2 linked regions of the Homo sapiens genome follow. The protein of the gene in region 2 interacts with the protein of the main gene of each other region in a pairwise test. Each region holds a gene or a part of one and is shown on either strand. Other genes may lie near its edges.

Region 1 (8,260 bases), on a different chromosome or scaffold from region 2:
TTAGTTAGACTTATTCTTATCCTGATTTTCTCTGCATCTGTACCAAACACATACAATTTAAAAATTGAGAGTAGGCCCACTCAGAGTTCCAAATTTACACCTTGAGAAAACATTGTCACTATTCTGAGTCCTCTATCCTAGTATGTATCCTCTAATTTTCAGATAAAATGATTACCTGGTGAATGGATAACCTTACAATTTAGTGAGTTCCCCAAGATTAGAAGTGTTGAAACACAAACTGAATAAAGATATTTTTATTATTACTTGGAGGAAGAATCCAAAAACTCTGTAATTGCCTGCCATGCCCACTGCCCCCTCCTGAGATGAGGCAAGGTTCTTTTGTTTGCTTTGATTTCAGCTATAAGTATCAACTCTAAAAACCAAAAAGAGATAAGACACAGAAAAGAAGAAGAAATTCTAACATATGTTTAGTTAGAACCTGAGAAGGAAAGGGGGAGAGAATGATACGGGGGCTTTTTGAAGGTATAATGACTGAAGATTTTCCTGAACTAATAATAGATATCCATCCATAAATTTTAAAACTCTACAAATCCCAAGCAGACAAATAAAACACATTTATATATCTTACACTAAAATTACAGAAAGCCAAAAACAAAACAGTCAGAGGAAGACAAGGCAGATTACCATCAAGGGAGACGAGCTAATCAAGACTGTATGATACTGGCACAGGAATATAAAAAATCAGTGGAAGAGAATAAAGAGTTCATAAACATACCCATGCACATATAGACACTAGGTATATTTGAAGACCAATGAGAACACAATAGACCTTCCAATATATGGTATTGATAAACTGGGTATTAATAAGGAGGGGGGAATCTGACTCTTACCTCATAACATATACAAAAACCAGTTGCAACTATATAAAATATCTAAACATGAAAGTGAAACTTATGGCTTTAAGCATAAATATAGGAGAGTATCTGCATGACCTTGGGACAGGGAAGGATTTATTTAAAAAGATACAAAAAGCACTAACCATAAAGAAAAAATATTGATAAACTCAGCTTTTTAAAAATTAGAACTTATCATAAAATCATCTTACAGGAAATGATGAAATAGTCCAAATAGTAGGAAAACAATCAATAAAGGACTGAGATCCAGATTACATAAATAACTCATACGAATCAATAAGAGCTATTCCAAGAGAAAAATGAGTAAAGATTTGAACTGACATGTCACAAAAGATGACTAAAAACCAATAAACATATGGAATATGTTCAATTTTATTATTAATCACGGAAACCCAAATTCAAACCTGTGGGGGTGGGCGGGTATAAGTACAGATATATATTCAAATGAGGATTTAAAAGTCTGGCATGTCTGATTTGTATATCATAGTTTTTGCAAACATCAAAAATGTATTTCCCAAGACCATTTGATGACATGGGAGAATATTTCTGACACTTCTTTTTGCAAAAATGTAGAACATCAAATGGTAAATGAAATAAAATTTGGTTTTTGACAAATAATGAAAATACATTAAAATATTAACCCTAGTTATCTGAGTGGCTAAATTTTATTTTTTCTTGGTAATGCTGTGTTTTTGAGATCTCTAAATTAATCATCCTTTTATTTTTAAATCAGAATAAATATTTGAGAAGAAAATTCAGCAAGCATAAGTGGAGCAACCATCCTTTTCTGTGATGGGAAAATTATAGGGACCTATAATTAAATGACATTCCTTTAAGCAAGAATTTTCAGAAGAAAAAGAGGAAACCCCAACACACCTTGGATACTGCTTGTAGAAGTTCATCATGCATTCTTTCCTCCTCTTCTGGGTGACACCTGGAGAAAGGTAAAATTGGGAGAGGGAAGAGTAACTGTGAGACACCAGGTTTTTCTTGGTACCCAGATTAGTCAAGTAAGAGTTCTTCCCCAGCCCCATTACCCACCACACATGAGGAATGGAGATCAGAGGAGAATGGGGCATTCTGTCCAATTCCAGTGGCTCAGGGGAAAGGTTGTGTTCACTGCTGTCCAGGGTTGGAATCTGACCAGACCTCAGAGAGGTTTCCTAGAGACAGAGTTCTGGAGTCACAATCGCATAGTTGACAGGACCCCATACTCATACACAGAATGCCACATACATTTAGGGACAGTCACACTTAAGGCGACATGCACGTCTCACCTGCCCACAAGGAGCCACACACGGCAACACAGTTACAATCACATACACACCATAGGAAACACACAATTACAGCTGCACAATCGTAGGCACCCCACACTGTCGCAGAGTCACAATCACACATCACCACGGGAACACACAGCCACAACCCCCACAGTGACAGGTATCCCATATCCGCACATAAGCCGCAGTGTTATTATCTCCCAGACAATTTCACAACCTCCCCTCTTTTTTTGGGGGGGTGGGGTGGGGTGGGGACAGAGTCTTGCCCTGTCGCCAGGCTGGAGTGCAGTGGTGCGATCTCGGCTCACTGCAACCTCCGCCTCCCGGGTTCAAGTGATTCTCCTGCCTCAGCCTGCGAGTAGCTGGGATTACAGGCGCGCGCCACCATGCCTAGCTAATTTTTGTATTTTTAGTAGAGATGGGGTTTCACCATGTTGGCCAGGATGGTCTCGATCTCTTGACCTCGTGATCCTCCTGCCTCGGCCTCCCAAACACAACCTCCACCTTTCAGGCCGCTCCGCCCGCAGGGGCCCAAGGCGCCAGCTCCCCATCGGTCTTCGGTATCCTCACCTAAGCCCTTTCCAGTCATCCCGGATGGGAACTTGCAGACCTGAGCCAGTTCTCCTGGGGACCAAAATATCTCACCTCCCAGATCTAAGGGTCCCGCCAGGAGTGACGAAACGTTCGAATTCCTGCGAGAAAAGTGGCAGGCCACCAGGCCCTCTGGGAAATGTAGTCCAGAGCGGGACCCACGCCGATTCCTGTCAGCTCCTCGCCTGGGCCCACCCGAAACGGCTGCTCCCTCAACTCTCAACATCCAGCCGAGCCTCGGAGTTGCGGGTCGCCGTAGCGCTGCGCAATGGAGATGAGCCTCCCGGGGAACCCGGCCCAAGCCTCACCCTCACACAGGAAAGCAGATGTGTTCTGGCCGGAAGTTGAGTGGGGCCGCGGGGCCTGCTGGGAGGTGTTGTCCTCGGAAACGTCGCTGGCGCGGAGGGATGGTTCGGCGCTTTAGGCGTCTGTCACAGACCTATCTGCGGGTCGCCTTCACCCAGCATCTCAGAAACTGCGCGCGGGATGAACATTCGGGTGTTTCCGGCAGGTGACGCTGCCGAGTCCCCGCAGCAGGGGGCGAGCAAGGGACTCGCGGTTGACGGGACACGGATCCTCTAAGGCCCAGAGTGTCCCGAGTAGCGGCAGTGGGGAGTGCTCAGGGTACGCTAATGGTGAGTGGTTGCAGTTGATGGGACAAAAAACTGTGATGGGAGTTAGTGTGGGTGTGTGGTTGTGTGTGTGAGTGTGACGGCACGAATAATCTGATGGGGTGATTGTGATATTTGGTTGCGCGGGATTATGATGAAATGTGTGATATGTGTGTGATTATGATTAAGGCTGTAGCGAGTGTGAACGTGGCGAAGTGTGCGTGATTGTAATATGTCTAGTAGTTCTTGTCTTGAGCTGGCTTTTCTGTAGCATTTGGCACAGTTGGTAACGGCTTGAAAAACACTTATTTGTTTTCTACTGATCCTCCCTCCTTGTTGGCCACTCCTCTGTAGTCTTCTTTGCTGTCTTTTTTACCCTAGTAGCCCTTGGCCCTTTGTAATTTTCCACTATTCCTTGGCGAACTTTTCAGGTTCATTATTATCTTATGACTTGCTGCTTTTATGTATGTTAGTTAGCTATTGCCATGATAATAATTATGTCTAAAAACCACCCCTGAACTCAATGCCATACAACAGCAAGTCCTTACTCTCCTGTTCACAGGCTTGCGCATTGACTGTGTTCAGCTGATCTAGGTGGGGCTTGGCTGAGTGGATAGGCTGCGTGACGAGTTAAGATCTGCGCCGCATGTGTTCTTTCAGGGTCTCAGGCCAAAAGGACATTTGTTGCCAGGGCATGCTCTGCTCCTGATGGGTCACCAGAGCGCAAGAGAGATTGCCTCAACCAGAGCAAGTCACATGGCTAAGCCTAAAATCAATTATGCCCACAGTTGGAGAGCAAAGTTACCTCGCAAAGAGTATGAATAATAATCTATTAGAGGGTGTGAGGAATTGGACTAAAATTCCAGTCTACCACCTTAAGAAACATACCTCTTTATCCTGGTGAATGCCTTTTAGTCCGGGTTCTCTTTTGTCTGATAATATTGCTTTTCAAGTTTTATTGTATTTCTTAAGAATTTCATTTTCTAACCCCCTTGTGTCTTTATGTTTCAGATCTGTGTCTTGTAAAGAGCATATTGCTGGGCTTACATCCGTTTATCTTGTTTGACTGTTATTTTAATAGGTGAGTATAGTTCAGTGGCATTTATCATGATTGCTCATAAAAAATGTTTTATTTTCTATTACGCCTTAAACATTTTTGATTGACATATAATAGTTGCACATATATCTTTTTTTATTGTGCAAATTCACCTTATCCCTTTTTCTCCCCTAGGTTGGTTTCTGCTATTATCCTTTTTTAATATGCATGCTTAACAAAACTCAACCTTAAGACTTTAAAATACTTGAACTCCAAAATATCCACCAATTTCTGTGTTATTCTTGTCTCATATATTATTTTCTTCTAGTTTTTGTTGTTGTTGTTGTTTTGTTTTGTTTTTTTGAGACGGAGTCTCGCTCTGTCACCCAGGCTGGAGTGCAGTGGCACGGTCTCGGCTCACTGCAAACTCCGCCTCCCGAGTTCAAGCGATTCTCCTGCCTCAGCCTCCCGAGTAGCTGGGACTACAGACGCGCCACCACGCCCGGCTGATTTTTTGTATTTTTAGCAGAGACAGGGTTTCACCATGTTAGCCACCATGGTAGATCTCCTGACCTCGTGATTTGCCGACCTCAGCCTCCCAAAGTGCTGGGATTACAGGCGTAAGCCACCATGCCCAGCCTATTCTCTTCTAGTTTTAAATCCCCAAATTAGTAGTAGTAGCTCATTTATTCTATATACAGTTCGTATCCAGGAGGGGTTGGTTTCAAGACCCCCCATGGATACCAGAATCCACAGATGCTCAAGTCCCTACATCCTTCTTTATACATTAAATCATCTCTAGATTATTTGTAATACCTAATATAATGTAAATGCTGTGTAAATCATTGTTACACGTTATTGTTTAGGGAATAATGAGAAAAAAATCTGTACTGTACGTGTTCAGTACAGACACAACTGTAGTAGGCCTAACTGTATTTTTTATCTGAGGCTGATTGAATCTGAGGATGCAGAACCTGTGGATAAGGAGGACCAACTATGTATACACACATGTATATTTAATTGTGGTAAAATACACAACATAGAATTTACCATCTAAACCATATATAAGTGTACAGTTCAGTGGCATGAAGTACATTCACATTGTTATGGTACCGTCACCACCATCCAGCCAGAGAACTCTTCTTCTTGCAAAACAGAAACCCAGTACCTATCAAACAATAACTCTGTACCCCCCTTTCCCCCGGCCTATGGCATCTACCATTCTACTTTCTGTCTCTGAATTTGACTATTCTAAATACTTCATATAAGCAGAATCATATGTTGTTTGTGCTTTTGTGACCCTGATTTAACTTAGCATAACGTCCTCAAGATTCATCCATGTTAGCATGTATTGGAATTTCCTCCTTTTTTAAGGCCGAATGATAAGTATGTCATATATGGATAAATATTTTGTTTATCAATTTATTCATCATTGGACACTTGGGCTGCTTCTACCTTTTGGCAATTGCAAGTGACACTGCTACAAACATGGGTATACAACTATCTGAGTCCCTGCTTTCAGTTTTTTATATATACATGTGGTAATGTCTGTTTTTAATCTTTGATTGTCATAGTGTTTTCGATAATGACTGAACCATTTTATCAGCATATTTTTGAGCACCTACTATGAATATCAAAAACAGACAAAAATAAGTCCTTGTTTTCATGGAGTTTATGTTGAGGGGGGTGGGTGGACAGTATATATAACTAAATTATAGTCATGTGCCATATATGTATGGACTATATACATACATGACAGTGGTCCTGTAAGACAGTGGTCCCCAGCCTTTTTGGCACCAGGGAGTGGTTTTGTGGAAGACAATTTTTCCAGGGACTGGGGGATGGGAGGGTTATGGTTTCAGGATGAAACTGTTGTCCCTCAAATCATGAGGCATTAGATTCCTATAAGGAGCAAGCAACCTATATCCCTCGCATGCACAGTTCAGAAGAGGGTTCACACTCCTGTAAGGCTGTAATGCCACCACTAATCTGATAGAAGGTGGAGCTCAGGCGGTAATGCTCACTCACCTGCTGCTCACTTCCTGCTGTGTGGCCTGGTTCCTAACCAGGAACCAGTACTGTACCAGTACCGGTACGTGGCCCAGGGGTTGAGGACCCCTGCTGTAAGATTATAATGGAGCTGAAAAATTCCTGTCACCTAGTGACTTTCTAGCCAATATAACACTGTAGCACAATACCATTACTCATGTGTTTGCAGTGATGCTGCTGTAAACAAACCTACTCTGCTGCCAGTCATATAAAAGTATAACATAAAATTATGTACAGTACATAATACTTGGTAATGATAATAAATATGTTACTGGTTCATGTGCCTACTATACTATACTTTTTATCATTACTTTGGAGCATATGCCTATTTATTTAAAAAAAGTTAACTGTAAAACAGCCTCAGGTCCTTCAGGAGGTATTCCAGAAGAAGGCATTGTTATCATAGAATGTGATAGCTCTGTGTGTGTTATTGTCCCTGAAGATCTTCCAGTGGGGCCAGATGTGGAGGTGAAAGCCAGCACCAATGATCCTGGACACTGTGTAGGCCTAGGCTAATGGGTGTTTGTGTCTTAATTTTTAACAAGAAAGTTTAAAAAGTTAAAAAATTTTTAAGAAGATAGCTTATAGAATAAGGATATAAAGAAAAAATATTTTTGTACAGCTGTACAATGCATTTTAAGCTATGTGCTACTACAAGAGTCAAAAAGTTTTAAAAAATTGAAAAGCTGGCTGGACACAGTGGCTCACCCCTATAATCCCAGCACTTTGGGAGGCCGAGGCGGGTGGATTACAGGAGGTCAAGAGTTAGAGACCAGGCTGACCAACATGGTGAAACCCCGTCTCTACTAAAAATACAAAAATTAGCCGGGTGTGGTGGCAGACACCTGTAATCCCAGCTACTTGGGAGGCTGAGGCAGGAGAATCACTTGAACCCAGGAGGCTTAGGTTGCAGTTAGCCAAGATGGTGCCATTACTCCAGCCTGGGTGACAGAGTGAGACTCCATCTAAAAAAAAAAAAAAATGAAAAGCTTATAAAGTAACAAAGTTATAGTAAGCTAAGGCTAATTCAACAATTTGAAGAAATAAAAATTTTATAAATTTAGTGTAGCCTAAGTGTACAGTGTTTATAAAGTCTACAGTAGTGTACAGTAGTGTCCTAGGCCTTTGCGTTCACTCGCCACTCACTCAGAGCAACTTCCAGTTCTGCAAGTTTCATTCATGGTAAGTGCCCTTTACCAGTGTACCATTTTTTATCTTTTATATTATATTTTTACCATTTCTCTCCTGTGTTTAGGTATGTTTAGATATACAAACACCTACCTTTGTATTGCAGTTGTCTACAGTATTCAGTACAGTAACATGCCATACAGGTTCGTAGCCTAGGAGCAATAGGCTATACCATATAGCATAGGTGGGTAGTAGGCTATACCATCCACATTTGTGTAAGTACACTTATATTTGCACAATGATGAAATTGCCTAATGACACATTTCTCAGAGCATATCTCTGTTGCAAAGTGATGCGTGACTGTATATATTAATAGTTTGTTAGAAAGTGATCACTGTCGGCCAAGCATGGTGGCTTATGCCTGTAATCCCAGCACTTTGAGAGGCTGAGGCCAGCAGATCACCTGAGGTCAGGAGTTCAAGAACAGCCTGACCAACATGGAGAAATCCCATCTCTACTAAAAATACAAAATTAGCCGGGCGTGGTGGCGCATGCCTGTAATCCCAGCTACTCAGGAGGCTAAGCCAGGAGAATCACTTAAACCCAGGAGGCGGAGGTTGCAGTGAACTGAGATTGTGCCATTGCACTCCAGCCTGGGCAACAAGAGCGAAACTCCATCCAAAAAAAAAAAAG
Region 2 (7,420 bases):
AAATATGGATTTTAGGAATATCATGTCTTTGTCATAAATGGCTAATACTTTTCCCTGTTTATTAAGTTTCTTTCTTAAACTAACTGCCATATAGTTCTCAATTTTGGCCGGACGCAGTGGCTCATGCCTGTAATCTCAGCACTTTGGGAGGCCAAGGCGGGCGGATCACTTGAGGTCAGGAGGTCAAGTCCAGCCTGGCTAACATATAGTGAAACCCCATCTCTACTAAAATATACAAAAATTAGCTGGGCGTGCTGGTGCGTGCCTGTAGTCCCATATACTTGGGAAACCGAGGCAAGAGAATTGCTTGAACCCAGGAGGTGGAGGTTGCCGTGAGCCGAGATCGCGCCACTGCACTCCAGCCTGGGCAACAGAGCGAGAGACTCCATCTCTAAATTAAAAAAAAAAAAACCCTCAATTTTGGGGAGGTCAAATTTATTTACCTTTTCTTTTTTTCTTAATTTCATGTTAACTGTAAAACAATAAAACTCAACACTGGTTTAACACTCCCATTTGTCACTTTTTTAGAAACAGGAATTTTTAAAAAAGCATTTACCTTTGCTGCTTTCTTGTCTCCTTCAGTGCGTACACCTAGAAGCCGTCTAAGCAGGAAATAGGAAATTTCCAATTCTGTGAATATCTCAGGTAAAGCTCCGACTGCACCAAGTACTTGCCCCACCATTCTGTCAGCCCGGCACAAAGTGGGGTCAATTTTTGTTCCAACTCCTATATAAAAATAAGATGTATATAGCTCAATTTTTTATTTCCTAAAACACCTATAAAGTGAATTAGTTGGCCAGGTGCAGTGGCTCACACCTGTAATCCCAGCACTTTGGGAGGCCGAGGCAGGTGGATGCCTGAGCTCAGGAGTTAAAGACCAGCCTGGGCAACACGGTGAAACCCTGTCTCTATTAAAATACAAAAAATTAGCCAGGCGTGGCGGCGTGCACCTGTAGTCTCAGCTACTTGGGAGGCTGAGGCAGGAGAATCACTTGAACCCAGGAGGCAGAGGTTGTAGTGAGCCGAGATCGCACCACTGCACTCCAACCTGGGTGACAGAGTGAGACTCTGTCTCCAAAAAAAAAAAAAGTGAATTAGATACCCCAAAGCCATATAAGCACAGCATATACCTACACACTTTCATACTTTTATTTTTATACTCATATAATAGCTATATAGGTACAAGAAAATACCTGTTTTATCTAGACAAATAGAAATATACACTCATGAGATGACTGGGCAAATGAGAACAGAACGATTCTCTTGATTTAAATTCTAAACAAAGGGTTTAGAAATCTGATTTTCTAGGAATGATGGCTTGGCTGAGAACTTAATGCAGGAGATGGTAAGTATTACTGACCTGGTCTTGAAAACAATAAATTCTAAACAAAGGGCAAATAGAGATAATAAGTGAACTCAAAATGAGTCCGAATATCCTTAACAAAGACCGAAAGAATACAAAATTCAAAATGAGTAGTTTGCAGAATACCTGCATGCCATTTCTCCCCTGAAAGACTGATTGAAAAGATAGTTAAAGACTACATATGGGCCAGGCGCAGTGGCTCACACTTATAATCCCAGCACTTGGGGAGGCCCAAGTTGGAGGATTACCTAAGGTCAGGAGTTCAAGACAAGTCTAGCCAACATGGCAAAACCCAATCTCTACTAAAAATACAATAGCTGGGCATGGTGGCAGACACCTATAATCCCAGCTACTCGAGAGGCTAACGCAGGAGAATCACTTGAACCTGGGAGGCAGAGGTTGCAGTGAGCCGAGATCGTGCCACTGCACTCCAGCCTGGGCGACAGAGTGAGACTCTCAAAAAAAAAAAAAAAAAAAAAAACTACATATGATTCCTGGGATCTACTTCAAAATATTCTAGCTGTGTCTTGAGGGGAGTAGGGGAAAGAAGATATATAGATGGAGCAAGATTGATTGGGAAAACTTTTTTTTGCTGCTGTTGTTGAGACACAGTCTCTGTCGCCCAGGCTGGAGTGCAGTGGTGTGATCTCGGCTCACTGTGACCTGGGATTACAGGCTGGGATTACAGGCATGTGCCACCACACCTGACTAAATTTTTTTTTTTTTTTGTATTTTTAGTAGAGACAGGGTTTTTCGAACTCCTGACCTCAGGTGATCCGTCCACCTCGGCCTCCCGAAGTGCTGGGAATACAGACATGAGCCACCACGCCCAGCCAAGACTGGTAAAACATTAATAATTGCTGAAGCTGAGTGATGGCTCTATGGGGGTTATCATTACAGTATTCTATCCTATGTTTAAAGAGTTCCTTAGGCCAAGTGTGGTGGCTCACGCCTGTAATCCCAGTATTTTGGGAGGCCAAGGAGGGCAGATCACTTAAGACCAGAAGTTCGAGACCAGCCTGGCCAACATGGCGAAACCCCATCTCTACTAAAAATACAAAAATTAGCTGGCTGTGGTGGTATGTGCCTATAGTTCCAGCTACTCGGGAGGCTGAGGCAGGAGAATTAACTGAACCCAGGAGGCAAAGGTTGCAGCGAGCCGAGATAATACTACTGCACTCCAGCCTGGGTGGCAGAATGAGACTCTGCCTCAAAAAAAAAAAAAAAAAAAAAAGAAATTAAAAAAGTTCCTTAAGTTAAATTTTTAAAAAGTTTCCAGATTTCCCTTGTTTACCACACACATGCACACAAAAGATAAAATGATAGATGGAACTACAGGCACACACCACCAAACCCAGCTAATCTTACTATTTTATTGGAGAAATGGCATCTCATGGTTTCCTAGGCTGGTCTCAAACTCCTGGTCTCAAGCAATCTTCCCACCTCAGCTTCCCAAAGCACTGGAATTATGAGCATGAGCCACCATACCCAACCTGGTAAATTCATTTTTTCTTTTCTTTTCTTCTTGTTTTTTTTTTTTTTTTGAGACAGAGTGTCACTCTGTCACCCAGGCTGGAGTGCACTGGTGTGATCTCGGCTCACCCTCCGCCTTCTGGGTTCAAGCGATTCTCATGCCTCAGCCTCCCGAGTAGCCGGGATTACAGGCGTGGGCCACCACACCCAGCTAACTTTTGTATTTTTAGTAGAGACAAGGTTTTACCATGTTGCCCAGGCTGGTCTCAAACTCCTGAGCTCAAGCGATCCACCCACCTCAGCCTCCCAAATTGCTGGGATCACAGGCATGAGACACTGCGCCCAGCCAACCTGGTAAACTCTTTTTCATTTTTTTGTTTTCTTTTATTTCCTTTTTAAAATTTTCAACCAGAGACACAACTTATTGGGTGAAGAATTAACTGTTTCTTTACCAAACATTTTCTTCTTTAATCTAAAGGTACAACACCCCTTCTAATTCTCACTGAATCTTTCATTTTTCTGGGTATTGAGTAATACACTAAGTTGTAAGGGACTAGAAAAGTTTTTAAATCACTTCAGTAATTGCTACACAAAGAAATTTACTTTCTTTTATTTCTACCTCATTGGAAATACGACCTGATATCATTCAACTGACATTTGTAGGTAATTTTCCATTTGCAAAATATACATAAAAGCAACCATGGCCGGGCATGGTGGTTCACGCCTGTAATCCTAGCACTTTGAAAGGCCGAGGCAGGGGGACTGCCTGAGCTCAGGAGTTCAAGACCAGCCTGGGCAACACGGTGAAACCCCGTCTCTACTAAAATACAAAAATCTTAGCTGGGCCTGGCAGCATGTGCCTGTAGTCCCAGCTACTCGGGAGGCTGAGGCATAAGAATTGCTTGAACCTGGGAGGCAGAGGCTGCAGTGAGCCAAGATTGCACCACTGCACTCCAGCCTGGAGGACACAGCGAGACTCCATCTCCCAAAAAAAAAAAAGGCAACCATTATCTAGCACAAAAATCATGTTAACAAAAACATAAGTGTAGGTAAATATCTTACATGATAAGTCATCAAATTTATTTTTTTATATTGCTAAAAAGGAGTTACTCTATATTTGATCAAAATGTATCCTTTGTGTTTAAAAATAATTTTTACAAACCCATGAAACCATCTTATAACCTAAAACAAGAGCTTAACCACATGATTGTTCCCCACCCTACTCTATTATTAAAATACCCAATTAAAAATCTGTAATATGTCCCTTTTGGTAATCCATCCCCCATGAAAAGTACCACAAATAGCCACAAATTAAAAGAGATGAGAAAAAAATCCTTACCAATAAGACCGCCTGGAGCAGCATATTGCAGATCATTATGCTCCGCAAAAAGTGATACAATTTTGGAAAAGATTGGTTTACACATGAGTTTTCCTTCACTATCTTTGGAAACAATACCAGGTCTTACTTCTATCTCCTGGCCCACCTGTAAACATATAATTAGTAATTAGAATTACTGTGTTACGCAAAATTATCATTTACCTATCAAAAGTTCCAACAGGGACTGGGTGCGGTGGCTCACATGTGTAATCCTAGCATTTTGGGAGGCCGAGGCGGGTGGATCACCTGAGGTCAGGAGTTCGAGACCAGCCCAGCCAACATAGTGAAACCCCGTCTCTACTAAAAACACAAAAATTAGCCAGGTGTGGTGGCACGCACCTGTAATCCCTGCTACTCAGGAGGCTGCGGCAGAATTGCTAGAACCTGGGAGGCAGAGGTTGCAGTGAACCGAGATCGCACCACTGCACTCCAGCCTGGGTGACAAAGAGAGACTCTGTCTCAAAAATAAAATAAAATAAAATAATAATAAAGGTCCAACCGGAAGACCATAAAACTGAAAAGGCAATCATTCCTGTATTTCAAAGATCATTATTCTTAAAAAAAAAAAAAAAAAAAGATGTGAACGAGACTGTCAAAACCAGAACCATCCAACTGTTGTTAACTACCCACCACACAAGTCTATTACCACATCAAATGTGCTCCATACTTACAAGTCTATAAATTTTCAAGTCAGACACATTCAAAAGACATAACAGAAAACAAAGAAATATAGCTGGGCGTGGTGGCTTATGCCTGTAATCCCAGCACTTTGGGAGGCTGAGGCAGGCAGATCACCTGAGGTCAGGAGTTAAGAGACCAGCCTGGCCAATATGGCAAAACCCCATCTCTACCAAAAAAATTAGCTGGGCGAGGTTGCGAGTGCCTGTAGCCCCAGCAAGTCGGGAGGCTGTGGCAGGAGAATCATCACCTGAACCCAGGAGGTGGAGGTTGCAGTGAGTCAAGATCATGCCACTGTGCTCAAAAAACAAAACAAAAAAAAAACTATTATCAGAGCATGTAAATTAGTATAGCTACCATGGAGAACAGTATGGAGGTTCCTTGAAAACCTGAAAATACAGCTACCATATGATCCATCAGTTTCACTAGTGGGTATACATTCACCAGAAAGGGAAGCAATATTATCAAAGAGGTATCTGCACTCCCATGTTTATTGTAGCACAGTTCACAATAGCCAAACATGGAATCAACCTAAGTGCCCATGAACAGATGAATGGATAAAGAAAATGCAGTATATAGGCCGGGCAAAGTGGCTCACGCCTATAATCCCAACACTTTGGGAGGCCGAGGCGGGTGGATCACTTGAGGTAAGGAGTTCAAGACCAGCCTGGCCAACATGGTGAAACCCTGTCTTTACTACAAATACAAAAATTAGCTGGGCATGGTGGGGGGTGCTTGTAATCCCAGCTACTTGGGAGGCTGGGGCAGGGAGAATCGCTTGAACCCAGGAGGTGAAGGTTGCAGTGAGCTGAGATCGCTCCAGCTTGGGCGAAACAGCAAGACTCCGCCTCAAGAAAAAAAAAAAAAAGAAAAGAAAAGCAATGGCAGCATATATATATATGCAATGAAGTATTATGCAGCCATAAAAAAAAATTCTGCCATTTGCAGCAGCACATCTAGAATTGGAGGCCATTTTGTTAAGTAAAATAAGCCAGGCACAAAAAGACAAATATCACACATTCTCACTCATCTGTATATGTGGAAGCTAAAAAGGTGGATCTCATGAAGGTAGATTGTGGATTCAGAGGTCTAGAAGGGTGGGAGGAGTGAAGTTTGAAGAGAGAAAAAAAGAATATTAAAAAAGAGAACTCTACATCAAATACCAGAAACCATGGAAAAAATTTTATTTTTCAATTTGGATTGTCCATACTTTTTTTCCTGATTAAGACAAGGATAAAACAAACAAACAAACAACAAAAAAAAAAAACCCAAAATCACAACAACCAAAACCCATTTTACCTTTAATACTCCTTTTAGGATACTACCACCAGCTACACCTCCCTTAAGGTCATCAACTTCACAGCCAGGTTTGTTGACATCAAAAGATCTAATAACTAAAATAAAACAAATTAAAGTCAGTTCTGTTAATCTTAACTTTAGAAGAAATATTATTTTCCATGTTAATGTTTCTAAAATAGTGGCCATTTGAGATTTATACCAAAGGGGTGCCTTTTTAACAAAATCTATTATTATTCCAATGATTAAGCAGTCTTACTTATGATGGAAAAAATGAAAGTAACTTAAGTTTATTAATAAGTGGCATATAGGGTATACCAGTATTATAGAGCATCACGCAGCTATTAACAATGTTAGAGCTATATGTAATGATCTGGAAGGATGACCCTCACATACTGTTAAGAAAAGTTATAAAAATTACACGCATAATATAATCCCACTTCCATAAAGAAAAATAAAATAATCAATGTCTGTATATGGATTTTTTTTTCCCTCTATCATAGAGGCTGGAGTGCAGTGGCACAATCATAGCTCACTGCAGCCTCAAATTCCTGGGCTCAATCTTCCTGCCTCAGCCTACCGAGTAGCTCGGACTACAGGTACACACCACTGCACCCAGCTGTAATATTTTATTTTTTGTAGAAATGGGGTCTTCCCTTAATGCCCAGGATGGTCCTGAACTCCTAGCCTCAAGCAATCCTCTCACCTCAGCGTCAGCCTCCCAAAGTGCTGGGATTACAGGTGAAAGCCACCATGCCCAGCCTGTGTATATGTTTATACACGATGATATGAACAAAGAGAAAAGTGTGGGAATAATGGACACCAAATGTTAACTTTGCTGACTTTAGGGCTAAGGAACTAGAACTTGAAGACAGAGAGATTATGGACATTTTCTTTATAGACCTCTGTAACTCCTGTAAGAACAATTCAGCTTTATAACTATAAAACACTAGGACTACATGACCTGCACTTCGGAGACTATTTCCTACTAAACACCAGAAGCTCGGATGAAAGCCAGAGGAGCTCAAATGTCTGTTTCGAGAAGGCTACTACATCCCCGTGTAGGAACCACAAGCCTAGGTGATCAAATTATACCAGTATCAGTTCTTCGTTAATTGAACAACAAAATCATCTGTAAATGTTTTAGTCAGGAAGTTCTAACACCCTAAAACATTATGATTCCATGGAGAATACTGTATTACTCCATCTTGATCATGTACCATATATTAAGC

Evidence for each region. Proteins that work in one complex are often made in the same cells at the same time.
Region 1: the proteins of EIF2S3 (region 2) and ZNF829 interact in binary tests that used the Homo sapiens proteins (3 or more experiments, as listed by UniProt).

What each region holds. Positions count from the first base shown.
Region 1 is NC_000019.10:36,913,214-36,921,473, forward strand, and holds the start of ZNF829 (zinc finger protein 829), read right to left. Parts: upstream 3,079-8,260; 5' UTR 2,798-3,078; exon of another isoform or gene 2,742-2,797; coding exon of another isoform or gene 2,583-2,741; intron 2,039-2,582; coding exon of another isoform or gene 1,955-2,038; coding exon 1,917-1,954; intron 1,810-1,916; coding exon 1,752-1,809; intron 1-1,751. UniProt on the Homo sapiens protein: May be involved in transcriptional regulation.
Region 2 is NC_000023.11:24,064,864-24,072,283, reverse strand, and holds part of EIF2S3 (eukaryotic translation initiation factor 2 subunit 3), read right to left. Parts: intron 6,287-7,420; coding exon 6,192-6,286; intron 4,321-6,191; coding exon 4,176-4,320; intron 727-4,175; coding exon 557-726; intron 1-556. UniProt on the Homo sapiens protein: Member of the eIF2 complex that functions in the early steps of protein synthesis by forming a ternary complex with GTP and initiator tRNA.